Homo sapiens: one gene and its partners. The protein of the gene in region 7 purifies or fractionates together with the protein of the main gene of each other region. This does not show direct contact. Each region holds a gene or a part of one and is shown on either strand. Other genes may lie near its edges.

Region 1 (4,783 bases), on a different chromosome or scaffold from region 7:
AAATTGCTCTGGATTTTTGTTTTCCTTTTCAAATTGTTTTGGAAACTATACCTTTCCCAGATCACTTGGAAAAGTAATTATTTTAAAATGTTTTATCCTATTAGGAAGACTCAGCATTTGAAATTCAACTCTACCTTAGTAATATCACTTTCTAGATCTGAGAAAATAAAGTGTGGTCTATCTTGATAGCAAGCATAGTTTGAATATTTGGGGAGGGATGGGAGTCATGTTCAGAGAAAATGAGTATGTTTCTAAATCATCCAAAGTGATTCTCAGTTAAGGAAATGCTCTCATTTGGCAGTACTTACAGCATGTAGCAGAAAGGTAAGCTTTTCCTGAAAGAGAAGAACAACCCTTTGGATTGGGCATACAACATCCTCAAACCAGCTGCTCAGATAGGATTTTATGTGACTCTCCAGGCCCCTTGCCTAAATCAAGAAAGAACATCATTTGCTTTAATATAAGCCTTTCCTTTAGTGGACTTCATATTTTCTTCATCATATCCTTGATGGTGAAAAAGACCAGGATAGACACCTCCCTTTTTAAAGCTAACACCACCAATTCAAAAAAAGAAATTGTGATATACCTTTCCTGGCTTGTTGGGCAGGGTGAGGGTTAAATCTGTACTGAATTTATTTAAAACACACCAAGAAATGCATTCTATAAAATGAAGAGACTGAATAGGGTTCCATGCTATTTCTTCACAGGGAAGAGTTGGGCACTCACAAGTCCCTCTCCTCCCACTGTACTGTGCACTCAATGGAGATACTCACTCAATAATCCTCATTTCCCTGGCACCTGTGGTACAGTGTCTAAAACATGCATAGTATGAGCTTATTAAGTGCCTTTTGAATTAGTCATGTAGATAGAGAATTCATTCGTATTCAGAATGTGAATGGGGAAGGATACAAGTAACTCATCAAAGCACTCCACTCCACTCCAGATGTCAGACATGCTACCGTGAGCACATCTGGCTTTCTAGGCTATACTGCTCCCTGAAGACTAGTGTCACACACGAAGAGCTCTAGTCCGGGAGAACAACTCTATTAGACTTGCATCAGTTGCTCACTCCTGCACTATCCCTTCCTCTCTCCTGCAGTATCTTCTAAGTATGTGAAAAGTATAACTTCTACTATATATGTAATGGGTAGTAAATTTGTGAGAGTCATGACTAACAACTGCTACAAGCTGAAAGCATTGTTTTTGTTTGCTTTTTTGAGACAGGGTCTCACTCTGTCATCCAGGCTGGAGTGCAGTGGTGCAATCATAGCTCACTGCAGCCTCAACTTCCCAGGCTCAAGCGATCCTCCCACCTCAGCCTCCCAAGTAGCTGGGACTACAGGTGCGTGCCACCATGCCTGGCTAATTTTTGTATTTGTTGTAGAGATGGGGTTTCACTTTGTTGCCCAGGCTGGCCTTGAACTCCTGGGCTCAAGTGATCTGCCCGCTTTGGCCTCTCAAAGTGCTGAGATTACAGGTGTGAGCCACCACACCCAGCCAGTTTTTCAAAGGTTTGAATAAGTTGATATGGATATGCCTAATTCATAAAAGATCAATTAATGAAAATAGAATGTTTTTAAGAATCTTTGATGTTTAGTTCAAGAACAGCCATACTATTGCATAGCATGTCTTTGGTGCCAGAGGCTGCATGGACCAGTACTTCTGACCATAATATAAATCTTATATGCCTAGAAATCAGGAAAAGGACATCCTCTTCCTCGCCAGGCATGTTACTACATGCCATTGAATAGATCGAATTTTTCATAGATACAAAACATCAGACGTAGTCTTGTGAAACTTTCAGCACTTACAGGACTATGTTTCCTGTATCCCTTTAAGATCACCTGTAGGCTGGGTGCAGTGGTTCATACCTGTAATCCCAGCACTTTGGGAGGCCGAGGCAGGTGGATTACTTGAGCTCAGCAGTTCAAGAGTTCAAGACAAGCCTGGGCAATATGGCAAAACCCCACCTCTACCAAAAATACAATTAGCTGGGCATGGTGGTGCATGCCTGTGGTACCAGCTACTTGGGAGGCTGAGGTGGGAGGATCGCTGGAGCCCAGAAAAGGCTGCAGTAAGCCATGATCGTGCCACTGCACTCCAGCCTGGGTGATAGAGTGAGACCCTATCTCAAAAAATGAAAAAGAAAAAGAAACCACCTGTAGGCTGGGCACAATGGCTCGTGTCTGTAATCTCAGCACTTTGGGTGGCTGAGGAGGGAGGATTGCTTGAGGCCAGGAATCCTAGACCAGCCTGGGCAACAAAGTGAGATCCCCATCTCGACAAAAAATACCAAAAGTTAGCCAGGCGTGTTGGTATTTGCCTGTAGTCCCAGCTGTTTAGGAGGCTGAGGCGAGAAGACTGCTTGAGCCCCAAGAAGCTGAGGCTGCAGTGAGCCTGATCGCGCCACTGCCCTGCAGCCTGGGCAACAAAGCAAGACCCTGTCTAAAAAAAAAAAAAATTCACCTCTCTACTAGCTCACAAGGTGGCAAGTTTCTAGAATACAGGCGTCTTTGTGTCTACCTATATGATTTGACAAGTAGAGCAATCACAGTATATTAATCATTTCAGTCATTATTTTATTTTTTTAACTCTGTCGCTCAGGCTGGAGTGCAGTGGTGCAATCTCGGCTCACTGAAACCTCTGCCTCCCGGGTTCAAGCGATTCTCCTGCCTCAGCCTCCCAAGTAGCTGGGACTACAGGTGCCTGCCACCATGCCTGGCTAAGTTTTAGTAGAGATGAAGTTTCATCATATTGACCAGGCTGGTCTCTGACCTTGTGATCTGCCCACCTCGGCCTCCCAAAGTGCTGGGATTACAGGCGTGAGCCACTGAGCCTGGCCCCATTTCAGTCTTTAAAAACCATTAAGTCAGTCACCTTACCTCACAATTCATGTTATTTTTCAGCCCTTGAATGTACTTGTCCAATTCAAGCCTGAAAGTATGTTCTTAAGGAAGCAATAAAGGATGAATAATGAAGACAGTATTTCATCTCTCAACAAGAAATATAAAATCTCTCAAATAATGTGAGCTGCAAATGCAAACAAGCCAAGGCAAAATGGCCACATGAAGGTATGAAATTCAACTAAATACACGAGGAGTAGAAAAGCTTTTTGGAGGTTGGTAGTAATATTCTTCCACCTGCCTTCCCATGTTTTCCTTCCTGATGTTCTCAAAAACCAAAGAAAGGATATAGCTCAAGTCCTTTTTCAGACCCTCCTAAAAAACAGACCACATATTCTGAAGGGTTACGTTCAGAGTCTATCGTTACTGTTTCAGGAAGCAGTTTTTCATTTTGGAAAAGGCAGTAATAACAACCAACTCGGTAACCTGGAATTCTAGAAAAGAAAGAAAATGTAAAATGCATTATTTTGGTTACTCATGCATCTATAATTTTGTGGACTGCTCTGAATTCTGGTCATCTTGATCTGGCAACACCATTAAACTGCCCACTAACTCAGAGCTTCCCAGACTTCTCGTTGGTGTACTTGCAGCAGCAAAGAAAAATGAATGTATACCCTGGAGGGCTTTAGTTAAAGCAGCCACTAACATACATGAAATTTCTTTGAATTCTCCTGTCTTATGTGAAAAATTCACACAAATTTCACTCTAGTTCATACCCATGTTTATATTAAAAAAAAGTATGTTCTCCCCTCTCCCAAAGCTTCACAAATTGATGTTTAAGGCAGATGTGCCTGAAGGTGGCCTTATCCTTGGGAAGTGGCCTCAAACTCCTGAGGACCTGTATGCTAACTTCACGGTCTGAGTTGAACTAGAATAAAGAGGTGTAATGGAGGCCGGGCACAGTGGCTCACACCTGTAATCCCAGCACTTTGGGAGGCCAAGGCGGGTGAATCACCTGAGGTCAGGAGTTCGAGACCAGCCTGGCCAACATGGTGAAACCCCATCTCTACTAAAAATACAAAAATTAGCCGGGTATGGTGGTGCATGCCTGTAATCCCAGCTATTCGGGAGGCTGAGGCAGGAGAATTGCTTGAACCAGGGAGGCGGAGGTTGCAGTAAGCCAAGATCATGCTACTGTACTCCAGTCTGGGCAACAGAGTGAGACTCTGTCTTAAAAAAAACAAAACAAAACAAAAAAGGAGAGGTGTAATGGAAAGACAGTTGGAATTGGACTAAGAATGCTCATGTTTAAGCCTGAACTCCATCAATTTGACCAGCCTCATGACTTAAGTTTACATAAACTCTGAGTTTATTTCCTCATCTGAAAATGAAAATAAGAGAGTATCTGCTATATTTCCCCTTTGTAAGGAAAACTACATAAAAGTTTGTGAAAATACAAACTGTATACAAATTTAGTTTTAATAATCAACACTTTTCTTCTTCTAAGTACAAAACTTATTAGCCTGGGCAACATGGTAGGACCCCATTTCTAAAAAAAAAAAAAAAAAAAAATTAAAAAAATTGCTGGGCATCGTAGTGCCTGCCTGCAGTCCCAGCTACTTGGGAGGCTGAGGTGAGAGGATTGATTAAGCCCAGGAGGTCAAGGCTGCAGTGAGCTGTAATCGGGCCGCTGCACTCCAGCCTGGGCAACAAAGCAAGACCCTGTCTCAAAAAAAAATAAACTAATTAAATAAAGTGCAATTGGGTGCCAGGGTCTCTGCCATTCAATTAATTCCATTCCACAAATGTTTATGTGTGAGGCCCAGTGCTCGGGCTGCCAGAGAATAAAGACAAATTCTGCAGGTCTAGTAGGAGCTGATCTTTTGGAGTTTCTCATCACTTCTCATATTTAGTTCAGAAATAAAAACTCAGGACACAGC
Region 2 (2,333 bases), on a different chromosome or scaffold from region 7:
ATGGCATTAGCATAGCTGAGCCTTGAACAACACAGGTTTGAAGAGTTTTGCTTCTTCGCAGATTTTCTTCCACCTCTGCCACCCTTGAGAGAGCAAGACCTACTCTTCCTCTTACTACTCCCACTAAGCCTACCCAACATGAAAACAATGAGGATGAAGACCTTTACGATGATTCACTTCCACCTAATGAATAGCAAATATATCTTCTTTCTTACGATTTCCTTAATAACATTTTCATTTCTTTAGCTTGTAAGAAGAGTATATAATACATATAACATAAAACATGTGCGAATTGACTATGTTATTGGTCAGGCTACCAGTCAACAGGAGGCTATTAGTGATTAAGTTTTGGGAGAGTCAAAAGTTATACAAGGATTTGAAACTGCATGCAGTAAGGAGGAGTTGGGGCCCCTAGCCCTAATGTTGTTCAAGGATCAACTGTACTAAGAAATATATGCGTTTTCCTATATTATCCTGGCAACAAAAAATATAAATATTTCTTAGTCTTATTTAATAATAAAATTTATTAGCAGATCTCTTGTAAGACAGTTGAAGAATTCATACATTTTCCAGCCCCAAAAAGGCCACACAGAATCACAAACATTCAACGTGTTCCACGATAATGATATGTATGAGATGCTCTTCCTTATAAACTTTATTACGAAGCAAATAAAATAATACATTCATAATATATGAACAAAGAAATCATACATTAAGAATCCTGTTGTGATTTGCTCTTAAGAGCAAAGAGCTGCAGAATCTCTAATATAAAAAAGAGGACATTTTCAATGTGTCCATTTTCCTAAGAAACGTGTGTATGAAATGCCTCCAAGTTTCTCATACTATATATACTTGCTTTAAAGAAGGAAATTATTTCTCATTTCATTTTCCAAATGAGAAACATTGCCTAAATTCATGACATCCCTAGGATTATTCTTAGTCTCAACTTCCACACAGAGATGTCTGAAATAGAAAACTCTTAAGTATCAGAATTCAGGGATATAAGCTTTCACATTCAAAAGTGCAGAGAATCCCAACATTAACAAACAATGGTTCCACAAAAATCAAAATTACAACTTAGACATCTCTAAAATAATAGTAATGTCACTTTAGAGTTTACAAACTACAGAAATAACTGAATTGTAACACATGCAGAGATTATTTCAAGTGCTTCTAAATACCTATTAGAAAAATGTGTATCTATTTGACAATATTATGTTCTCTGGAGAAAGATATATAAGGATTACAGCAGAGACTTCAGTATTGACAAAGTAAAATTTTTACCTTCAAGTTGCATTCTAAAATTACTATGAAGTCTCAACTTCACTGAATTAATGAAAATAAAATATATTCCACGACAGATTTTTGTGGCACAAATGAAAACTTTAAAAAATACATGAAACAAAAACAAGATGAGAGATTTCCTGATACATATAATACTATTTATATTCCCTTATCTCAATACTTGGAAACTCAATGTCCTATTTTGTAAACTAGTCATATAAAATGACACTAGAAGTATAAATGAGGTTTAATCAATTGACTCTGACAATCTGCCATCTCACCATTCATCACTGACAGCATCCAAAACATGTTATCATCTGCCCACGAGGTAGGGTGCAGAGTGGAGAAGACTAAGGCACGGGTAACTGCCACACAGTGGCAAAGTGCCGACCAGTGGCATGGGGAGCACACATCGTGTGCCCTCCAAACCCCTGCACAGCCATTCTGCCTGCATCAACGCACCCAGTCCCTTGGATGGCGTAGAACTTCCAGAATTTCAGCTTCTTTGGAATTCTCTGAGGGTGAATGCATGTACTCCCATCTATGCATGTCCAAAACAAAAGCAAAAAACGTCATAAAAAATGACACACATACCTCTTTACTTAAAATAAATGAAAAATAAAATCCTAAGAATAAAAAAAAAAAAAGCCTTATACTTCTTTGTCTCTACTGTGCCTGATGTGCCTTGTACCAACTTGACCTTTAAAAAAACTATTTGCCAAACAAATAGTTTCTTAACAACTCTTGGGTATGCTTTGGCTAGTATTAATATCCCAGAGCCAAAATACACCTTTAATATAAACCAGGGTTTCATATAGTGTAGAAACTCAGGTGATCCATGGGCAAACCTTCTTTAGCTTAATACTTATGCATACCTCTTCTCAGAAAAACAAATAGGCAGAGAAGGTCCATCTCACCTCCTAGCCACCATGACTCAGCCTGTGTTCTCTCTCCCTCTAGTCTCTCCTTGCCCTCATAGAGCTGTGGGATTCACCATGTCACCGCTTAAAATACCCAATTTGATTTGCCTTATTTGACTGTGATTTTCT
Region 3 (4,783 bases), on a different chromosome or scaffold from region 7:
ATATCTATAAATAACAAAAAGTTACCAGCAAAAACGTTTAGGTTATAACATTCCCAAACTTCCTAACATTTTAAGTGTTTTAGATATATGTTGTCTGACCAGTTCGTTTGGTTACAGTTTTAAACTAGCAAACCATTACCCTGTAAGAGGAGCTAAACTAAACTATAACACTGCACAAACTTCCCAAGGAAGGTAACTTGAAAAGTCTAAAAAGTGATTCCAATTATTCTAATTAACATTTGAGATGCTAAAAGAATCAATGACTCAAGAAACACTTTGAAGTAATTCCATTTTTCTTTATCATTTTCTAAAAAAGTATTCACATAAATTTAAGATCCAGATTGCTTAAGAGTATGTCTTCAAAGTAGGTTTATCACTAAAGCATTCTGATCCAAAGACATAGTCTTAATGCTTCTAATATGTAATTCTAACCTAAAATCACAATCCTTGGTTTGAAAACATCAAAGCTAAGAAACAAAAAAATAAATCAGGGTGAAAGTGTGCAGCAGCTATAGCTACAAGAGTGGAAAATAAATTCTATTTTTTCCATAAAGACTCTATGAAAATATAAAGCCCAAAGTCAGTGACAACAGAAGTCCACATATAAATGGTGTTTAAAAATAGAAAGTCTTCTAAAGCTTCTCATGAGATGTCAATGAATAGTCATAATCTTAAGACCTTATAAATCAAGGTTAAGTTATACACAACTATGCTGATTTACATACCTTCTACAATGTCCAACTGACATACATAATTTACAGACACCCATAGGAATTCATAATGCCCTATCATATCATCTCTCAATACTGGATGTTTATTGTTTTATAGTTTTACTACTTTAAGTACCAAGAAGCCTTTTCAGAGGAAGAGTTCCATCTCTTCCCTTGATCCCCCAAAGTATAGGTAACAAAATATAAAATTAAACAAGATTTATGTTTGATAAACTAACATATAAAATTACCATTGCAATTTTCATAGTGACTGCTTATAAACATAACAGTCATCATAAAGCCTATAAAGTATATACTTAGTTTTATAAAAGAAATGCAGATTGTCTCAAGGTAAAAAATACAGTGCTGGCTGCTAAAAAGCACTTTGTCGCAATAAGATGTGCAATAATGAGCAAAACTTCAGAAAACATGAATATGTTCCCCAACTTTTAATATTAGTTAAGCAAGAATTGCACTGCAGCAGCAGGATGCTTTTTAGTGGCTGACACTATAAAGCTAACGTTAAGAAAGAAAAAAGGCAGAAAGTGTGAGCAACAAATGGTGTAACCAAATTATTGCAAATGGAGATTAGCAATAAGAAGTGAGGAAGGTGACCGTCCACTCCATTCTGATAAGACACCATCTTTAAATATTAAGTTTTTTGCAGGAAGTGGAACACCCATGTCAGCACACGATGACTGTGAAAGCAAACTTGAAAAACTGGGCTCTGTGTGAATATCCAATATTGAAGCACCTTCCTAAAAGATCAAGAAACAAGAGAAATGATATTCAACACTTTACCAAAACCACTTAATATAACTAATGAGAAAGAGAGACCTTGATTACCTGAGAAGTGTTTATGGATTGCAAAGCAGTACAGGAGATGCAAAGATCTACACTGTGAGCCCAAAGCAATCAATGACAGGTATTAATATGTGCAAAAATGACTAACAACGTTAAACTGTAGTAAGTCCTTTTAAATAGAAATAAGAGGCTACGAGACTGTGGGAAAAGCAAAAGTTCATTTTTACAAGACCTAACCTAACCCCAAAGTATTACCTAACAGAAGAAAAATCTCTAAAAAAAAAAAAAAACTTACAAAGGCCAGGTGCAGTGGCTTGTGCGCCTGTAATCCCAGCACTCTGGGAGGCTGAGGCGGGTGAATCACTTGAGATCAGGAGTTCAAAACGAGCCTGGCCAACATGGTGAAACCTCTTCCTACTAAAAATACAAAAAAATTAGCTGGGTGTGGTGGCACATGCCTGTGATACCAGTTACTCAAGAGGCTGAGGCAGGAGAATGGCTTGAACCCAGGAGGCAAAGGTTGCAGTGAGCCGAGATCGTGCCACTGCACTCCAGCCTGGGCAACACAGCCAGACTCCATCTCGGGGAAAAAACAAAACAAACAAACAAAAAAAACCTTACAAAACACTAAGCACCAGAATAATCCACCTACTCCACGCTTCTCAGATTCATATATTCCGCACAGACCTCCCCCCAGGACTCCATGCTCAAACATCCACCTATCTGACACTTCATTTCAGATGCTTCCCCATGCACTCTATACTCAGTATGCCCATCATTGAACTCTCAAATTTTCCCTCCCCTCTTCCTCCCCAGTCTTCTCTATTTCACACATCCAGCTAATCAAAAAACATAAGAATCATTCATGATCCCTCCCCTCCCTTCCCTCCACAGCCCTAATCTTTTCCTCACATTTAATTCATCATCAAGTTTTATCAACCTATCTCCAAAATATATCCCAAATTAGTTTAATTTATTAATTCACTATGGCCAAGGCCTTCACTGCCACAACAGACAGGCCAGTATTGACAGAATTTTGAAATTTTTCCATTTATTGCATCCTTATAAAATTTCCATTTTTGCCTATTTTTATAAAATAGTCCTTCAGAAATAACCTCTCTCCCCTGTTTAAAAGTCTTTAATCATTTCTCTTTGCACTCAACGTAAAATACTAGTTCTCTAACATATGCCAGAAGGCCCTGCACACCGTGCTCCGGCCCTCTTCTTCAACCTTACCTCTTGCTTCTACCCCTCTTTCATGAAGTTTCTGCCACACTGGGCTTCATTTGTTTCTTTGTTCACTGGACATTTCCCAGACACAGGAAGTACAGACCTAAGCTCTGCCGGAATATTCTTTTCCAACTTTTTGGCTTCAGCTTATATTATCCTGCACCTATTGAAATTAGGTCTACCTGCAGATTTCATCATAGTTGGCTTCTTCAAAGTACTTTTTAAAATCTTTTAGAACTTATATATCTTAATATTTATCTGATTATTGTCTCCCACAACATTCTCTAAGTTCCATTAGTATCTTACACATCACTGTTTCCACAGCACTCAGCAAAGAATCTGGCATAGGTCAGGGTCAAGCATTTACCAACTGAATGAATGAAGTAAAACTCCAAAATATTGATTTCATAACGTTGAATTAGATATTCTGAACAGAAATATTCTATTTTAAAAGTTTACCTATAAATCAAGTCTAGAATATTCTTTCTTTCCTTGGGGATGGGGGAAAAACAAGAAGTCCAGAGCACTGGCCTTCGCTGCCACAACAGACAGCCCATCCCAGCAGTGGAGAATCGCTTTAGTTATTGGGAAGTGCGCTATAACCAAAAACTAACACCTAGCATGGCACACAGCCCATAAAAGACACTTAACACATTTCTGTTGAATAAAGCACTGGCACAGAACAAAGAGATCAAGCTTTGGTCTCCGAAGACCTGGCGAGTGAAATGTGCAAGTCCATTAACTTCTTGAATCTCAATGTCTTCATTTGTACAATAAAATTAATGTTTATTTCATATCTTGCTGCTGTGGTGACTCAAAAACAAACACAGAAGTGTTGTGCATACTTAAAGCTCAGTACAAGTACCATTTGGACTTTTTGGTTTTTGTTACCTGGAATGAGTGAACAAAGTTAAGGACTTGCAGAGAGAGTTTTCTACTGGAATGTAAGAGGTTTTGAAGGCTGAAAAAAAAAAAGGCGAGAAACAGTTTAAAACAAACATAAAGGCAAGAATGAGTTTCTCATAAGAGTTTAATTTTAGCAATTTAAATGCATCTATATATCCTGGCCAATCACAAAACATCTTAAAAAACAATTTCAGTGTTTCTCATCAATGAAATTTTTGCTTGTTTTAATAATAGGGAGTAGTCATGCATTAAAAGTCCATTTTGAAATAAAATACATCGTGTAACTAAAATCAAAGTTATTGTTTTAAAAAAATTCAACTACTATAAACATAAATGTTAAATGAAAGAAAACTTTTCAAATGAAGATTTAGGCACTCTGAGGAATGACAACTATGACACAACCTTTAAACAACCAAAGTAATTGCAAAAGACAACCTGATAACAGATTAAACACACACCAACCTACCTAAATATTTTTCAAATATGTAAGTCAGTAAAAATTATAGTGGTAATCTTTAAAGTTCTATAGTATTTCTATTTTTTACTCATGTATATTACTTTGTTTTTAGAGAATAGATGTTGAAATTGTCAACTGAGTACTCTTCATTTTCTGATAAAAGCTACATTACACCATTTAAATGAATTATTGTCCAACTTCATTTTCTAAAATAAGAAGATCTTGACTTGTGGATTTCACCTCTCCAAGCCACCTATCATGACAATTAGATTCAATTATACTCTTTCCTGCTAACCCAGTTTGTCTCAGAACCTTTACAACATTGCCTCTTAGCAGCTACTCACAATGGATCAGAGCTGGTATATAAGATAAAACCTACATGTCATCTTTAAGGAGTAATACATATCCATTTTAGAAAATGTAGAAAGTGAAGAAAATTTTGCAAAGTCATCATAATTCCACCACAAAAACCAATCACTATTAACAGAATATAACATGAGTGTGTGTATGTTAGGAGTGAGAGAAATGCAGAGAAATTTTCTGTAGACATACATTTTTTAAAATCTAGGTTCATACTCCATATCAGCATGCCCATTTCACCACACCCTCACCTCACCTAGATTACTAAATAAATATAATCAAAACATGTGCCCAAAATGTTTGCCTGTGACTAATT
Region 4 (3,901 bases), on a different chromosome or scaffold from region 7:
AACCTTTGACCAGGAGGGATCTAGCACAGGTCAGTCTTCCAGCCACGGTCAGCATGGCTCTGGCTCAAGTCAGTCTTCTAGCTATGGCCAACAGGGCTCTGGATCTGGCCAGTCTCCTAGTCGCGGCCGACATGGGTCCGGTTCCGGGCACTCTTCCAGCTACGGCCAACATGGGTCTGGCTCCGGTTGGTCTTCCAGCAGTGGCCGACATGGGTCTGGCTCAGGTCAGTCTTCTGGATTTGGTCACCACGAGTCTAGCTCATGGCAGTCCTCTGGTTACACTCAGCATGGATCTGGCTCAGGTCACTCCTCCAGCTACGAACAACACGGCTCTAGGTCAGGACAGTCATCTAGGGGTGAACGACACGGATCTAGCTCAGGTTCATCTTCCAGCTATGGTCAGCATGGGTCTGGCTCCCGTCAGTCTTTGGGCCACGGCCAACATGGGTCTGGATCTGGCCAGTCTCCTAGCCCTAGCCGTGGCCGACATGGGTCTGGTTCTGGGCAGTCTTCCAGCTACAGCCCATATGGGTCTGGCTCAGGGTGGTCTTCCAGCCGTGGCCCATATGAGTCTGGCTCCGGTCACTCTTCTGGCTTAGGTCACCGAGAGTCTCGCTCAGGACAGTCCTCTGGCTACGGTCAACATGGATCTAGCTCAGGTCATTCCTCTACCCATGGGCAACATGGTTCTACATCAGGACAGTCATCGAGCTGTGGCCAACATGGAGCTAGCTCAGGTCAGTCTTCCAGCCACGGTCAGCATGGCTCTGGCTCAAGTCAGTCTTCTGGCTATGGCCGACAGGGCTCTGGATCTGGCCAGTCTCCAGGCCACGGCCAGCGTGGGTCTGGGTCAAGGCAGTCTCCCAGCTACGGCCGACATGGGTCTGGCTCCGGTCGGTCTTCCAGCAGTGGCCAACATGGGTCTGGCTTAGGCGAGTCTTCTGGCTTTGGTCACCACGAGTCTAGCTCAGGGCAGTCCTCTAGTTACAGTCAGCATGGGTCTGGCTCAGGTCACTCCTCTGGCTACGGACAACACGGCTCTAGATCAGGACAGTCATCTAGGGGTGAACGACACGGATCTAGCTCAGGTTCGTCTTCCCACTATGGTCAGCATGGGTCTGGCTCCCGTCAGTCTTCGGGCCACGGCCGACAAGGGTCTGGATCTGGCCAGTCCCCTAGCCGCGGCCGACATGGGTCCGGTTTGGGGCACTCCTCCAGCCACGGCCAACATGGGTCTGGCTCAGGTCGTTCTTCCAGCCGTGGCCCATATGAGTCTCGCTTGGGTCACTCTTCTGTCTTTGGTCAACATGAGTCTGGCTCAGGACATTCCTCTGCTTACAGTCAGCATGGTAGTGGCTCAGGGCACTTCTGTAGCCAAGGACAGCATGGTTCTACATCAGGACAGTCATCAACCTTTGACCAGGAGGGATCTAGCACAGGCCAGTCTTCCAGCTATGGCCACCGTGGCTCTGGCTCCAGTCAGTCTTCTGGCTATGGCCGACATGGGGCTGGATCTGGCCAGTCTCTTAGCCACGGCCGACACGGGTCTGGTTCAGGGCAGTCTTCCAGCTACGGCCAACATGGGTCTGGCTCAGGACAGTCCTCTGGTTATAGTCAGCATGGAAGTGGCTCAGGGCAAGATGGGTATTCTTATTGCAAAGGAGGAAGTAACCATGATGGGGGAAGTTCTGGCTCATATTTTCTCAGTTTTCCTAGTAGCACTTCACCCTATGAATATGTCCAAGAGCAGAGGTGCTACTTTTATCAGTGAATAATAAACATAAATGCAATTTACTCAAGTAGCAATTTAAGAAATAGGAAAGTCATCTATGAATTCATCATGAAAGACAAGCAATCCATCATGAAATTCGTTCTAAAAGTGAATCAATGCATTTCTGTCTCTTTCTTTAGAGCCTAAAACTGTAGCATATATCTTGTTATGGGGTTCCTTCCAAAGACTGTTAGGCATTTGTGCTACTTTGTTAGAAAATACTGAGTGGAATAACTTGTTAGAATGAGGGTTAAACTTTGAGGAATAATGAAAAGCTTTTAAAGAGCTTTGGGTTTAGTTGGAGTTGTCTTTTTGAGAGCTCATCATTCATTTATAGATGGTGCCAAAGCTAACCTTACATTTCTTAGAAGCAAAATATTACAAATGCATTACCAGTCCTAGATACAAAGCTTTGTTTTACAGCAATTAGTGTACCCTAATTTTTAGTGTGCCCCAAGTTTGGTGTGTCCCAATTTTTGGTATTGTGGCAGAAGGTGAAGGCTCTGAAAGCAAAGATGCAGCAGCGGTAGTGTCTTTACTTATCAAAACCATCAAGTCCTTTTTCTTGGGTATATATTTAATCAGTAAGTTAATTAGTGGCATAAAAAAGTAGCATCAGGGTCTTTTCCCAAGCCAGTGAGCAAGAGCATTATTTCATAAAGAATAGGGATTTATCATTTCAGGAAAAAAAAAAACATTCAAATGTGGGCTTTAGCTTGTTTTCAGCAGAAAGATCTTGCTCCCTATTTCTAAGAGGCTGCTCAATATTGGGAAATATATTGAGGAGTTATTCCATGGAAATACAATGCTTTCCACCTACTACTGTAGTTCAATAACGTTTCCACCTGAAAAAATATCATCCATGCCCAGATGAAAAGGAAGAGTATCTGTCACTGCTACATAGTTCCTTAATTTGACTGTAACACATTTGTTTCAAGTCTTTGGATTCAAACAACCGGATTGTATTAAAATTGACAATAAATAAATGTTGATTAAATACTAAGACTTTTCTCATCTGTGCTTCATTTCACTTCTTACATACAGATGGTCATCCTAGAAACCAAACCAAACAGCGATTTCCCAATATTCTATTTTTCACAATGAAGAATAGATAAAGCATTCTTAAAACTCAATAAGACAAACTACTTCATTTTAAAATGATCAAAATTCCATCACACTGGTATTGGCAATGATTTTTTTGATATGACACCAAAATCACACACAATAATGTGGAGCTGTCAGCTCCATACATTTTATTGTCCCTGAAGCCCTTAGAGGGAGACAACATATGGAGGTAGAAGGCGATATTTGTCTTGGTTTAACAAAAACTTTTTAGTGTTAGTTTTAATTTTTAACAAAAAAAGTTTTTTAAAAAAATTTAAAACAGAAAAAAGCCTACAGAATAATGATGTAAAGAAAAAAATATTTGTGTTCAGCTATACAATGTGTTCGTGCTTTAAGCTAGGTGTTAATTAAGAGAGTCAAAAAGTTTAAAAATGTAAAAGTCTATAAACCTAAAAATTTACAGTAAGCTAAAGTTAATTTTTACTGGAGGAAGAAATTCTTTTATAAATTTAGTGTAATTCAAGTGTATAGTGTTTACACACTCTACAGTAGTATACAGTAATGTCCTAGGCCTTCCCATTCACTCACCACTCACTGACTGACACCTACAGCAACTTCTAGTCCTACATGCTCTATTCATGGTAAGTGCCCTATACAAGTGTACCTTTTTTATCTTTTATGCCATATTTTTACTGTACCTTCTTTATGTTTAGATACATTTAGATGCACACTTACCATTGTGTTAGTTGCCTACAGTACTCAGTACAGTAACATGCTGTATAGGTTTGTAGCCTAGGAGCAATAATCTATACCATATAGCCTAGTTGTTTATTGGCTATACCATCTATATTTGTGTAAGTACACTCTCTGATGTTTGCCTAAGGGTGCATTTTTCACAACATATCCCCCATTGTTAAGCAACACGATTGTGTACTTTACTATAGGGCCTAGCAATTCCACTCCCAAGCGAAATGACAACGTATGTCTACATTGAAGATTTTTACATGAATGTTTATAGCAGCTTTAATAATAGCCCCAAACTTGAAACAATCCAAATGTCCACGA
Region 5 (3,500 bases), on a different chromosome or scaffold from region 7:
GTGACCCAACAAACAGAGCAAATTTTAATTTTAAGCCTGTTATTATAGTTCCTATATACCTACAATTTTTAAATTAATGGAAATGGCTTTCAGGGCAAGGGTCACCATGGCAGCCACCTTGGTTAGGCTTGGGCTCTTGTCTGTCAAGCAGGTTCAGGTTCAATTCTACCCCTTTGAGAAGTAGAGATGATGAGGACCTTCCTCTAGATGATGAGTAATGAGAAGGTCCACTCCACCAATCTCAACTGCTCAGCTATTGTGGACATGAGGTGGACATGCAGCATAATGACTTCGAGCCCTGTGTGGACATGCTGTTCAGAGATGCTGTGTGGTCATCGCCTCATTATGTGCTGCACCCATCTCACCACTCTGGAAATGCTCACTGTCTTTGCCTCCCACATTGAGGCCAGAGATGTGGCAAGGAGCCAAGAATGTGCTGGTACTGGACAATGACAGTGCCAAAAAGACCAACAAGCTGATGTTAGACTGGACTAGAACACTTATCTAAAAAGAGGTTTACTTAATCATTCAAATCACTATCTGGAGGGCCACAGAGTAAGGCCCTCTAAATGCTTGGCAAGACCAAGATATCATAATTAGGAAGCTTACTTATGGGGGTGGGAAGCTGAAAGTCCTGTGAACACAATGTTTCTGGGTCAAGGCAAGATTATGGGGGTGTCTGGATGAACCTGAATTTATTTTACTTTCTTATGTCAATCACTGCTTATCCCTTCCAGTATGACTTCTCCCAGTGCTCACTCGAGGTACCTCTTCACTCTTATTTACCAAATCCAGTTGGAAAGAATACTGTCAGAGTGAGTGCTGTTTTCTCCGTCCTAATCTTTCTATCTCAGTAGCATTTGCCACTCTTAATTCATTCATGCCTTGGAAACTTTTTCCCTCTTGGGTCCTTTTTCTTTAAAACACACACCTGGGTGTGTGTTTTAATCTGATCGCTAAAGGAGAGTACTTCTAGCTGGTGAAGGAAATACTTTCATTAGGGGCTTTGCAAGGCTCCAAGTATATATATACACCATCATTTTGGTAACCATAAGGCTTTGCAGTTTATGGGATCTATTAGGAAGATGCTCCCAGAGGGGTCAAATGTTCCCAGCAGTGGCATGGCAGAGCACCAATGATGGCAGATGCTCAGATAGAAGGAATGCACAGAGGCACCCAAACTGTGGACATACTCTTGAATACAAGAAACACCTAGAGACTAACAGAAATAATTGTAGGGGAAGGGGTGTTTTACAGGAGATGAAGGGGTGTGAACTGGAGAGATATGAGAATTAATGAAGTTGTGTTCTCTTTCATACCAATAGGCTGTGCATACACTGTGTGCTTGGCACTATGCTAGGCACTAGATAAAGAGACATGGTTTCAATTATCAAGGAACTCAGTCTTGTAATCAGGGCAAATGTAGGAAAGCAGACAATGAATAGAACCTCCCAGAACATTTTTGTGTTTCAATTTTTAAAGTAGAGATTTTTCATTAGAGTTTGAAATAGTTAATTAAATTTTCTTGGGCTGGTTTGATCCAATTCCTCCCTACTTCTCTATTTTAGATGGAAATTGAGGCCCACCCATAGAGGTTAAGTGAGGTTTCCAAAATCAGTGACAAGGTGGCTAGAAGCACGAAAGGGAAAGGCCATATCTAACACTCACAATCACTCTTTTCCATTACATCATAATACCTCTTTTTTTTTTTTTTTTTTTTTTTTTTGATGGAGTTTTGCTCTGTTGCCCAGGCTGGAGTGCAATGGCGCGATCTCGGCTCACTGCAACCTCCGCCTCCTGGGTTCAAGCTATTCTCCTGCCTCAGCCTCCTGAGTAGCTGGGATTACAGACATGCACCACCACACCTGGCTAATTTTGTATTTTTAATAGAGACAGGGTTTCACCGTGTTGGTCAGGCTGGTCTCTAACTCCTGACCTCAGATGATCTGACCGCCTTGGCCTCCCAAAGTACTGGGATTACGAGCGTGAGCCATCATGCCCAGCCCATAATACCTCATTTATAATCCACTAAATGGATGTCTCTACTCTGGTTTTTCATTCATACCTATATGGAAAAGAAAAGTATAGTGAAAAAAGCATGGCTACATAATCAGAAAAACCTGGGATCTGAATTTTCTGACAAATTTACACTACTTTGTTTAGCATTAAGCCTGGTCGTAATAAAACAGCTAAGTGTTCTGGAAGAAATTATGATAAATCAGTACTACTAACAAGACTGGACATGTGAGTTTGCACCTGCTTATTAGGCTTTATGCTCCTGTCCTAGGATTTCTTTTTCTTTTCTTTTTTCTTTTTTTTTTTTTTTGAGATGGAGTCTTGCTCTGTCACCCAGGCTGGAGTGCAGTGGCACAATCTCGGCTCACTGCAAACTCTGCCTCCCGGGTTCACACCATTCTCCTGCCTCAGCCTCCCGATTAGCTGGGACTACAGGCACCTGCCACCACGCCCGGCTAATTTTTTTGTATTTTTAGTAGAGACGGTGTTTCACTGCGTTAGCCAGGATCTCGATCTCCTGAGGTCAGGTCTCGATCTCCTGACCTCGTGATCCACCCGCCTCGGCCTCCCAAAGTGCTGGGATTACAGGCATGAACCACCGCGCCCGGGCTTTCTTTTCTTTTTTTTTTTTTTTGAGACGGAGTTTCGCTCCTGTTGCCCAGGCTGGAGTGCAATGGCGTGATCTCGGGTCACCGCAACCTCCGCCTCCCAGGTTCCAGCGATTCTCCTGCCTCAGCCTACTGAGTAGCTGGGATTACAGGCATGTGCCACTGCGCCCAGCTAATTTTTGTATTTTTAGTAGAGATGGGGTTTCTCCATGTTGGTCAGGCTGGTCTCAAACTCCCGACCTCAGATGATGCACCTGCCTCGGCCTCCCAGAGTGTTGGGGTCACAGGCGTGAGCCACTGGGCCCGGCCTGTCCTAGGATGTCTTAACAGATTATATGAATACCTCTCAGCAAAACTAACTGAAAAGTGAAGATGGAAGAATGACAGTTTTAATATTAATTGATGACTTGTTAGAAAACAGCCACACCAAACAATCTTTAGGGCTTGCTTTATCCTACAATGGTAACTAGTAAATTAAGGAGGTAATACATAATCAAGGATCCAGTTTAAAAGCATAAATATTTGGCAGGTGCAGTGACTCACGCCTGCAATCTCGGCACTTTGGGAGGCCAAGGCAGGCGGATCACGAGGTCAGGAGTTTGAGACTAGCCTGACCAACATATTGAAACCCTGTCTCTACTAAAAATACAAAAAATTAGCCGGGTGTGGTGGCAGGTGCCTGTAATCCCAGCTACTTGGGATGCTGAGGCAGGAGAATCACTTGAACTCAGGAGGTGGAGGTTGCAGTGAGCCGAGATCGTACCACTGCACTCCAGCCCGCTGGGAGACAGTGCAAGACTTCGTTTCAAAAAAAAAAAAAAAAAGTATAAAATATTTTTCATGTGCTCTAACAAAGCCCTCATATTTCATCTATTT
Region 6 (5,428 bases), on a different chromosome or scaffold from region 7:
GATGTCACAGCTGTGAAAGTTTTTTGAAAACAGTGAAGCCCCATGTGGCTAGAATGTATTATCATAACATAAAGAGGCTCGGAAGAGGTCTGTCTGTTCTGCAAAGATTCTATTTACACATTTCTGTAAATAGATGCCTCACTCACTCACCAGTCAACATGAACTGATAGGCATTGTCAGAGATGGAGAAGATGTGGGGCGGGGCCTCCTGGCGCTTTTTGCCTCTGTAGGCAGCCACCACCTCGGGCTTGTACACCGGCAGCCACTTGTAGGGGTTGACGGTGACACAGAAGAGGCCTGAGTAGGTCTGGGAAGATCAGAACATTTATCATTTGGATCTCGTTTTTACTCAGAGAGAGACATGAAATAAAAAGGTGTTTACAGACACTCACGTAGATCATCCAGGCTGCATAGCGCTCTTTGAGGTTGTACAGCACTCCAGGCTCGTGTAGATGAGTCATCATGGCCATGTCCTCAATTTTGTCATATTTCGGAGGGTTCATAGGGAAGACTTGGTCTTCCCTGACAGTTAGAGTCTGGTGAGTAAGCAAGAAACCAGTTCGTTTTTGTTTGTTTGTTTGAGATAGAGTTTTGCTTTTTTTGCCCAGGCTGGAGTGCAGTGGCGCGATCTCAGCTCACTGCAACCTCCGCCCTCCTGCTTCAAGTGATTGTCCTGCCTCAGCCTTCTGAGTAGCTGGGATTGCAAGTGCCCATCACCATGCCCAGCTAATTTTTGTATTTTTAGTAGAGACAGGATTTCGCCATGTTGGCCAGGCTGGTCTCGAACTCCTGATCTCAGGTGATCCACCTGCCTCAGCCTCCCAAAGTGCTGGGATTACAGGCGTGAGCCACTGCGCCTGGCTAAGACCAGTTCGTTTTAATGGTTGGAGGTAGGGTTTATGTTTGCCTGTATATTTTGGTACAAAACTATAATCACACATACTTCTCATTATATTATTTAATGTCCTCTTAAAAAAGGCATGAAATATATTCATTTCAGAGTTTAATGTTAAGAAAACCTGTTTCCTATGATGAGCTAGGACACTATCTTTTTAAAAGATTTTTTCCTCCCACATTCTCTTATCCCAGATTTATCAGTTTATATCCTTTTTTTCTTATTTTAGTAGGCTAAATTTTTATTTTTTTCTTTCATTCATTAAGAAACTTCATGTTTTTGGAAGTAATGGGGATATTAATACATTATTTAACTAAGTAAATATTTAACTTCTGATAGGAGGAGCTTGTTTTCATTTCCCTCAAGTTTGGACATTCAGACTAGGAAGTGGGGAATTGAAGGGAAATGGTGAAGGCCATACATAGTGGGGTGAGGTCCTGTGCGAAGTTGGGAAGGGAAGACATGAAGGTACTGCTGTGAATTTCTTTTGCCTTCCACATCTAATGTCTCAACACTGACTAGAAGGGTGTTTGCATTGGCAACAGGCTTGGAGATTCCCAGTAAGTTAGGCTTCAACTTTTGAACCAAGAAATAAAATGGGGAGTATTTTCTCCCTGTTTTCACTTACTGCTCCACCTTCAGTCTTTACGGTTACTTTCCCTCCTTCTTTGCTTTGTATAGTGCTCTTCACATAGGATTCCTTGGGCTCCGCCACAAAGACAGATGTTTTAGCATCAAACGGCTTGTTTTGGGCCTCAATCCGCTCCTTTTCTGATTTTCGAAGGTAGGGAGCAGCTTCGCCAAAAACAGCCATCTCAGCGTCTGAGCTCGCACTCATGGCTGCGATTTATTTAGCAAAGGATTCTGCCTAGGGAGGAGAGAAACGGGAGAGAGAGATATAAAAAGCAGAAGTCACAAATGTGAGTTAGGATTTGAAATGAAAGAAATGTTGAACATAGCCTGTGCTGTAACTATTCCTCCAAACTGGCACTCCCCAGTGTTCTAACATAGTCTAAAGGACAAGTATGGAGTGAGACTGTAATTTGAGATTTCATTTTTAGGACTGTGAATTTCCTTTTCAGATCACATATCTTGATCCTCAGGGATAGGGTACCTACAATTGAATTAGAATGAAACCTCTACAGCTAAAACTATTGATGGATTGTTTTATAGCAACTGTCATTATTTAATTTCCTCTCCTCTTTCTGCATAATGTTTGTCTATGCCATATGCCAGGACAATCATATGGTGAGAAAAGAAAGTTTGTCTTGTTCAAATGAAGGTTCATATTTTCAAAGCTATCAAAAAATCTTTGCCTTTTAAGATGGCCATTTTCTCTCATAAAGCAAATAATTATTTTTAACATCTTTATGTTGATATTTGGTGTTGTATCTCTCAGTGGATTGTTAGAAGAACATAATACATTCTAATACTCTGGATTTTTTGTAATTTGGGTTGTTCCCAACAGACTTAGCATTGCCTTGATTCCAAAATCTTTTTTGACATGAGAGATTTCAGCTGTCAGTTAACAGATCTAACCACAGAGGAATGAGAGCTTCAGCACAAAGGCCCTTCTTCCCACATAAATTCCATGGGTTTCTTTTCTTTCCACCCAGAAAACAGAGAAAAAAGTTTTAAGAGTACATCACATGCATGTAAGCCATTGTCTTCTGATTAATAGATAGGCCTCTGCAATGTGGACATGTTAGATTGGTTGAGTTTTTCCTTTATTTTCAATTAGAAAGTTACTTAGGGAAGGGCAGGATTCCTCTTAAATTAGTCATGGTATTTAACACCCGGTGGATGTAATACTTGCGACCTGTTAAGTAAATAATAATAAGTCTTTCTAACAACAAATAACAAATAATCAAAGGTAGCTAAAATATTTATATTTATATTTCTAGGTAAAAATCTTTCTGGAGTCTTTAAAAATGTCTATAAAATGTCCTAAGTCCTCAATGCTTTGCCATAGAAGAAGACTGGCATGGACTAGTCTATTGCCACTGGACAGTTCTAAGCACAGCTGAGAACTCACTGTTGAAGCTAATTCTGTCCTAAACGGTCTTTGAATCTTGGAACCCAAATGAGGATAGTCTCTGAGAAGAAGACATTTTGAAAAAGTTATTTTCTAGCATTTATAAACACTCACTCGGAAACACTCTTTCCTGATATAACTGCAAAAACATGGAAATGGTGTATAATTCAGGATTGTTCACAGCTTCATTAGACTATATCCCCTCTGTCATCAATAAATTAATAAAGCCAAGTCTTACCTCTGGAGTTCCAGATAAAAATGCAGGTTCAGAAGTGTTCCACTCTGTAAAACAACAAGCTTCTTATTAGTGATGCTCCGAAATTCCAATATTATAGTTACAGAATTGTTATTATAGTTACAGAATTGAAGTTTCCCTACCCCAAAGCTTGGTTCTATGAAGACAAAAGTTAAGATTGAGAGAGCAGTTTAATGCTCACAGATAACTACGAGGTCAGCTCTTTTCCCCACCTGGGGTTTTTCGAGTTCCAAGGCCTTCATCACTTACCTCTGGGTTCTTGGTGGAAATAAGGCACAAGGGGCAGTCCTGCTTATATAGGAACTAATGTGCTGATGCTGCAACTACCTCCTCTTTGTTAGGGCAAGACATTTGGCAACATGAACCCTCAGCATAGTTTGTAGTGACATTTGTCATGTTTGGATATAATTAGAAGTATTCATATCATTTTGTGTATGCAAACCAATCTCCTATAAATAATTTGACAGAGACCGATCTGCCAGCAGAGAATGCTTTCTAGTGTGCTGGGAAGGGAATCTTTGACAGTGCCTGATGGGGCCTCAGAGTAAGTTCTTAAGAGCTATATTCAATTTGGCAAACTCTTTCATGCACGCCTGTGGTAGCCAAATGATCAGATACCCGGGGCACACGGCTGTCAGGGCCTTAAGCACGTTTCCTTATTTGCTACCACGGGAACCCCCCACTGCATTCCCTTGGGCCACTACAGATGCTCACTCTTGAAGTCCAGGCTTAGACAGCAGAGATTCTACCTTGAGTCTCCACCATTGGGCCAGTGCCCACTCATCTAACTTTGAAAAACATTATTAGTAGAAAATAATATGTTTATTACAGAAAAAAATACAGGTAAGTAAAAAAAGTCTCTGTAATCTCTAATGCAGAAATAAGATAGAGGCGTATAAGTGGGATCATATTATAGATGCATATATAGTACATGTGTGCCTTGTAATATGCTTTAATAATTAATATATCATATCACTAATGTAATTTATACCCTATTCTTTAAATAAATTATGATTTTTTTTAATTAAACTCTTTCCTTTTTTTAAGGTCAGATATATTGAGGTATAATTTACATAGAGTCAAATTCACCCTTTTAAAGTGACAGTTTTATGAGGTTTTTTGCTTTTATTTTTAAAAATTTTTAAACTTTATAATAAAATTTACTTCTTTTGTTGTATGATTGTATGAGTTTTTATACACGTATTGATTCATGTAGCCACCACCACAGATAGGATGCAGAACAATTCCAGGCCTATGGGTTTGATAAATATATGCAGGTGTGTAACCTCTTACACTGTAATTACATAAAAATTAAAGCCTTAGAGATTAGGCTAAATTTTCCCTTTGATGAACACTCACAATGCTGGTATCTCCCTTTTCTCCCAAGGTAACTACGGATACCCGTTTAGTTTGTAATATTGCAGACCTTTTCTGTACATTTACATATGTATTTTCTGGGAAAATATAAATTAGTAAAACTGGTCTAAGGAAATTGGGCCATAGAAAATTTATAATATATAATATAGATGTTTAAAATATAGATAGTATGATTATTTATTTACAAACTTTCTTTTTTCATTCTACACTCTTGGATCATTTGCCATGTTAGTACATAAATAATAATATGAAAACATTTCAAACATATGCAAAAGTAGAGGGGATAGCATAATGAACCTAGTATATTCATCATCCAGCACTGATAATTATCAGTTCATGGTCAGTCTTGTTTCTTATATATTCTCACCATTCCCTCTATCACTGGATTATTTTGATATTACTCATTTTTAAATTTCTGTGTAAAATTCCGTAGGTTTAAGATTGTAATAATTTTGTTTATACAAGTTCTAAAAAGTTTCTCCTGATTTAATAATGATCTTTACTATGCGATCTCAATCTTCTAGAAGTTTTACATCTTTAGGTAGTCAGAGTTATAAAAAATTTTCTTTTATATTTTTGGTTTTTTGTGTGTATTGTATAAGAAAAACTTTCTCTAACTCAAGAACTCAGAGTCATACATATATTCTTCTGTATTTTCAAGCTAATGCTTATGAAATAGTGAGATGTGTAATCCTGTATTTTCAATCTGATGCTTAAAAAATAGTGAGATTTGTAATCCAGCTGTGTGTGTGTTCGTGTGCATGTAATCTGTTTCTGGATTCCATATTTTGTACCGTATTTCTATGCCAATAGCATAGGTTTTGATGACCAGTAGGGCCAATTTTCCCTAATTATTCAAAGTTGT
Region 7 (4,783 bases):
AATATGAACTTTTACAAATACAGTAGTCCCCCCTTATCCACAGGGGATATGTTCATACATTTGAGGATAGTGCTGAATCCTATATACACAATACTAAAATAAAACACAAATTGTACATAGGCTGGAGGTGGGGGGCAACAGTTTGGGGAAGAAAAAAAACATCAGAATACTAGACTTGCACTGGGACATTCCACAAAACAGAAAAGTTAGTATTGCACTTTCTCTCCTAGAAAAAATAGGTAAATCCCTCCAAAGTCCTTTTCCTTTCATTCCCACACCAAGCTTGAGCTTTGCTTAAATCAAAGGAGAAAAGAAAATGTTTCACTCAAATAAAAAGAGAAGGTGGGCAGGGACTGGAGGGGCAGAAGAGTACTCAAGTAAGATATTTTCTAAACCAGCAATTTTTAAACCTGACTGAACATTAGAATCATCTAGCTTCATTCAGATAAATTAAACTACAATAGGTGCTGGTAGGGTCCACGCATCAGTATTTTTAAAAAATTCCTTACTCTAGAGTAAGGGTTAAAAAGCACCATTCTAAATAAAGGAGCTAGAAAAGGAATCCTCAGCCATGTATGTTAAATAATTCCTATCTTTGATCCTGTACTACGGGATTCACAAGAAAAATGGAAAGGGAAACATGGAAAGTTGCTAAACTGCAATGGAAATAAATATTTCACTTTCTGTCAGAAGAGAAGATAAAACATTAACTTTTAAATTATAAAACCAATAGCCCCAGCTACAACCAATTTGCTTAAAAATTGGTACTATCAGCTACTCCTTCTTCCTAATATCTAAGCTCTCTTATGAAAGGTTCAGTCTAAATGGAAAATAGACAATGACCAAAAATTGTTAAATGTTACAAAGGTAAGTATTAAAGTACCAAGTGCCATAGTAGCTGGGGAATTGAACCAGTCTAGAGGATGAGGAAAGGAGTTAGAGAAACTGGCAAACAGGAAAAGCTTCTCTGAAGAAATGTTGCCTAAAGTGGGATCTAACCCAAGGGTAAGCAGTTAATTAGGTGAGGGTAAGGAAGGTGCTGGCAGCCAAGGCAGGGGAAAATAGCAAACATAAAGGCTCTGAAGGCGGGGGGTGGAAATTAAAGCATTCCAGGAACTGAGAGAAGATAAATATGGCTAGGGCTTACAGAGAAAGGAGCAAGAAGAGTAGCTCATAATGAGGTTAGAGAGGTATGCAGATGTCAGACCATACAGGACCCTGGAAATAATGTCAAGGGTTTAAATTTCATCTTCAAAACAATGGAAATTCATGAAAAAGTTTTAAACAAAAAAAGTAACAATCTTTTCACAAACTGACTGATCTAAATTTTTGTTAGCACTGTCCTATACAAAGAATACCAATATTTCAAGAAACGTGAAAGTAATATTCTTGTAGAGGTGACAGAATCATCAACCTATCATAGCTTGATCACATTAACATTAAAAGCATTCCCTGAACTCTCTGCTTGAATTCAGTTTTTATTAAATTTGGTCTGTAATTTGGATTTCCAGGTAGTGCTCCCTGTGTCAAAGAAACAATGCTGGCTGATCACTCTAACTACTTAAGACCATTTGACACTTTACATTATCTCACTGGAGATTAGAAAATTAACAGTGCTTATTAGTCAGTTTATTATGAATAACTATATGCTCCTATTTAATAGTTTATTTATGTGGCCCCTATGTATAGTTTTATCAGCCCAGAAAGTACCCTCTACCTGTGGAAATGTTCCTATGGTTTTGGTGGGAGGGCTACCAACAATAAACTTCACTCCTCTAGCCAAGGAATTAGGGATATGACCTAGATGGGGCCCCTCATTGTATCTGCCCTTTCCTGGCTACAGTGACTGATCCAAAGTGTGGGAACATGAATTAAATTGGGCAATTCCTCTAGATTTCAAACACAGAAGCTGGAAGTGTTCAGTTTTATTCCTCAATAACCAAGCTCATAAAGGTGTGACCCCAGATGGCCAAGCTTCACATCTTGGAGAAGCCAGAGAGAAAGCAGAGACTCCGAGAGAAAGTAGAGATAAGAACTCATGAGAGACAAAGGCAGTTCTGATGCTTTATAATACCTGGGTTTGGTCAAATCCTTGAAACTAGCTGCACCACTACCCTTCTGGATTTAATTACTTTTTTTTTTTTTGAGATGGAGTCTCGCTCTGTCTCCCAGGCTGGAGTGCAGTGGCTAGATCTCGGCTCACTGCAAGCTCCGCCTCCCGGGTTCATGCCATTCTCCTGCCTCAGCCTCCCAAGTAGCTGGGACTACAGGCGCCCGCCACCATACCTGGCTAATTTTTTTTTAAGTAGAGACGGGGTTTTACCGTGTTAGCCAGGATGGTCTTGATCTCCTGACCTCGTGATCCGTCCGCCTCGGCCTCCCAAAGTGCTGGGATTACAGGCGTGAGCCACCACGCCCGGCCGGATTTAATTACTTCTTCTTTTTCTTAAATTCGTTTTTGTTGCTTGCAACCAAAAGATACCAAACATGCAATATTAAGAAATACGGAACGAATTGGCTTTCAGCAGACAATACTTGCATCATTATCCACTAGCTTTAACCATTACCTCTGTCCCTGTGATATAATATGAAATACATGGTCTTTCTCTCCAGTTCCTGTCACAGTCCTCCTAAAACTCTTGGAATTTTCTAATAGGAGTGTCTTTGGTTATTTATGAGCCACTATTTTTGATCAAACCTGATTATGCTAATGAAGTGATTTAGGGTGGGGCCAGTCACCAGAAAGACCATGTGACAAGAGGGTTGAACTCTCAGCCTCACACACACACACACCTCTATGGGAGGGGATGGAGATGAAGTTCTATAAAAACCGTTGAATAAGATTTGTTGAGCTTCTGGATGAAAACACTGGAGGTGCTAGTGAGGCAGGTGAATAGGGTCTGGAGGCAGGGAATCTAAGGCTGTTTCACCCCGACTTCCCAGAACTAACTTGAAGGGAAAACCCTAACTTTCCACGCCTAAGTAACAAAAGGACCAGAGGCTACTCCCGTTGCAAACCACCTACCTTTTCTGCACAGTAGACGGGAAATTGGCTGTCCTCAACAAATCAGACTGACTGCGGGTGGAATCTTCGTTTGCAACTTTGTAACTTCACTCTAGCCACTGAATGGTCGCTGTCCACAACCAAGCGGACTGATGTGGGGGTGGGTCTGGCAACCAATCAGACCAATTGCAAGCCACCTCTTCATTTACATGAGGTGAGCATGGAATGGCCAATGGGAAAGTTCTAGGGGGTATTTGGACCCAAGAAGATTCGGTAAAGCAGCGGGGGTCGGGGGGGAGTGCTGCTAGGGCAGCTCCCACACTGTGGAGTGTACTTTTGTTTTCAATAAATCCCTGCTTTTGTTCTTTTGTTGCTTCATTCTTTCTTTGCTTGGAGTTTTGTCCAATTCTTTGTTCAAAACGCCAAGAACCTGGACAGCTTGCAATCATGACTCTACTGGTGACACTGGGATGGTGGTGTGCCCCTTCCCCCATACCTTGCCCTATTCATCTCTTCCTACTGGCTGTTCACTGATCTTTTGTAGTATCCTTTATAATAAACCCGTAAATGTACTTCCCTGAGTCCTGTAAGTCACTCTAGCAAGTTAACTGAACCAAGGAGGGAGTAACGGGAACCCTGATTTACAGTCAGTCAGGAGTGTATAGGTGACAACCTACTACTTGTGATTACCATCTGAGGTTGGGGGCAGCCTTGCGGGACTGAGCCATTAACCTGTGGGATCTGACTAACTTCAGGTACATATGTGTCAGAATTGAATTATGGGACATTCAGTTCATGCCTGCTGGAAAACTGCTTGGTATGGAAAAACCCCCACACATCTGGTAGCATAAAAAAAAGAGTGTGTTTTCAAGTCCCACACAGAAAAGACAGGTATATATTCCCAGCAAGAATTTATCAGTTTTGCAGGAATAAGGCATACATAATGATATACACAGTAACAGATTAAATGCAAAGTCCGGGAAAATTTTAAACTAGAATTTTTAAGATTAGGGCAGGGAAGAATTGAAGTGTATTAAAAAGAACAATGAATTAGGAGGCCGAGGTCCTTCTGTGTCTTGTGCTACTGTGTTGTTAATTTGGCACATCACTTATTTTCAGTAAGGTACAATTTCTTCACCTGGAATGTGGGACTCCTCTACATTATTTGTAAGGTTGCTTGCAGTTAAGTGCTGAAATTACTGAATCATTTTGAGGATATGAAAGCATACTCCTTCGCGGTGGCTCAAGCCTGTAATCCCAGCACTTTGGGAGGCCGAGGCAGGCGGATCACTTGAGGTCTGGCGTTCCAGACCAGCAGGGCCAACATGGTGAAACCCCGTCTCTACTAAAAGTACAAAAATTAGACGGGAGTGGTGGCGGGCGCCTGTAATCCCAGCTACTCAGGCGGCTGAGGCAGGAGAATCTTTTGAACGTGGGAGGCGGAGGTTGCAGTGAGCGGAGATCACGCCACTGCATTCCAGCCTGGGCAACAAGAGTGAAACTCCGTCTCAAAAAAATAAATAAATAAATAAAAGCATACTCTTCATTCACATTATTGTATGTTAAGTATAAATTCATTTTTATAACTAGCCTAAATATGACCTCCTGTTTTCTAAGAGTATATTGGCCGGGCGCGGTAGCTCACGCCTGTAATCCCTGCACTTTGGGAGGCCAAGCCAGGCGGATCACAAGGTCAGGAGTTTGAGACCATCCTGGCCAACATGGTGAAACCCCGTCTCTACTAAAAATACAAAAAAATTAGCCCGGTGTGGTAGCGGG

The links.
Region 1: the proteins of STYX (region 7) and C17orf75 purify together in Homo sapiens (affinity purification with mass spectrometry, with the first as the bait; one large-scale study listed by BioGRID). This does not show direct contact.
Region 2: the proteins of STYX (region 7) and CPOX purify together in Homo sapiens (affinity purification with mass spectrometry; one study listed by BioGRID and IntAct). This does not show direct contact.
Region 3: the proteins of STYX (region 7) and FAM91A1 purify together in Homo sapiens (affinity purification with mass spectrometry, with the first as the bait; one large-scale study listed by BioGRID). This does not show direct contact.
Region 4: the proteins of STYX (region 7) and HRNR purify together in Homo sapiens (affinity purification with mass spectrometry; one study listed by BioGRID and IntAct). This does not show direct contact.
Region 5: the proteins of STYX (region 7) and CAPZA1 purify together in Homo sapiens (affinity purification with mass spectrometry, with the first as the bait; one large-scale study listed by BioGRID). This does not show direct contact.
Region 6: the proteins of STYX (region 7) and MYH8 purify together in Homo sapiens (affinity purification with mass spectrometry; one large-scale study listed by BioGRID and IntAct). This does not show direct contact.

The regions. Positions count from the first base shown.
Region 1 is NC_000017.11:32,335,015-32,339,797, forward strand, and holds part of C17orf75 (protein Njmu-R1), read right to left. Parts: intron 3,338-4,783; coding exon 3,194-3,337; intron 2,941-3,193; coding exon 2,883-2,940; intron 429-2,882; coding exon 309-428; intron 1-308. UniProt on the Homo sapiens protein: As component of the WDR11 complex acts together with TBC1D23 to facilitate the golgin-mediated capture of vesicles generated using AP-1. May have a role in spermatogenesis.
Region 2 is NC_000003.12:98,578,946-98,581,278, forward strand, and holds the end of CPOX (oxygen-dependent coproporphyrinogen-III oxidase, mitochondrial precursor), read right to left. Parts: intron 1,826-2,333; coding exon 1,738-1,825; 3' UTR 501-1,737; downstream 1-500. UniProt on the Homo sapiens protein: Catalyzes the aerobic oxidative decarboxylation of propionate groups of rings A and B of coproporphyrinogen-III to yield the vinyl groups in protoporphyrinogen-IX and participates to the sixth step in the heme biosynthetic pathway.
Region 3 is NC_000008.11:123,809,204-123,813,986, reverse strand, and holds part of FAM91A1 (protein FAM91A1), read right to left. Parts: intron 3,706-4,783; coding exon 3,636-3,705; coding exon of another isoform or gene 3,597-3,635; exon of another isoform or gene 3,326-3,596; intron 1,469-3,325; coding exon 1,283-1,468; 3' UTR 1-1,282. UniProt on the Homo sapiens protein: As component of the WDR11 complex acts together with TBC1D23 to facilitate the golgin-mediated capture of vesicles generated using AP-1.
Region 4 is NC_000001.11:152,210,946-152,214,846, reverse strand, and holds the end of HRNR (hornerin), read left to right. Parts: coding exon 1-1,771; 3' UTR 1,772-2,771; downstream 2,772-3,901. UniProt on the Homo sapiens protein: Component of the epidermal cornified cell envelopes.
Region 5 is NC_000001.11:112,622,832-112,626,331, reverse strand, and holds part of CAPZA1 (F-actin-capping protein subunit alpha-1), read right to left. Parts: intron 1-3,500. UniProt on the Homo sapiens protein: F-actin-capping proteins bind in a Ca(2+)-independent manner to the fast growing ends of actin filaments (barbed end) thereby blocking the exchange of subunits at these ends.
Region 6 is NC_000017.11:10,418,495-10,423,922, forward strand, and holds the start of MYH8 (myosin-8), read right to left. Parts: upstream 3,457-5,428; 5' UTR 3,436-3,456; intron 3,213-3,435; 5' UTR 3,169-3,212; intron 1,764-3,168; 5' UTR 1,734-1,763; coding exon 1,524-1,733; intron 537-1,523; coding exon 393-536; intron 308-392; coding exon 151-307; intron 1-150. UniProt on the Homo sapiens protein: Muscle contraction.
Region 7 is NC_000014.9:52,732,419-52,737,201, reverse strand, and holds part of STYX (serine/threonine/tyrosine-interacting protein), read right to left. Parts: intron 2,358-4,783; exon of another isoform or gene 2,324-2,357; intron 1-2,323. UniProt on the Homo sapiens protein: Catalytically inactive phosphatase. Acts as a nuclear anchor for MAPK1/MAPK3 (ERK1/ERK2). Modulates cell-fate decisions and cell migration by spatiotemporal regulation of MAPK1/MAPK3 (ERK1/ERK2).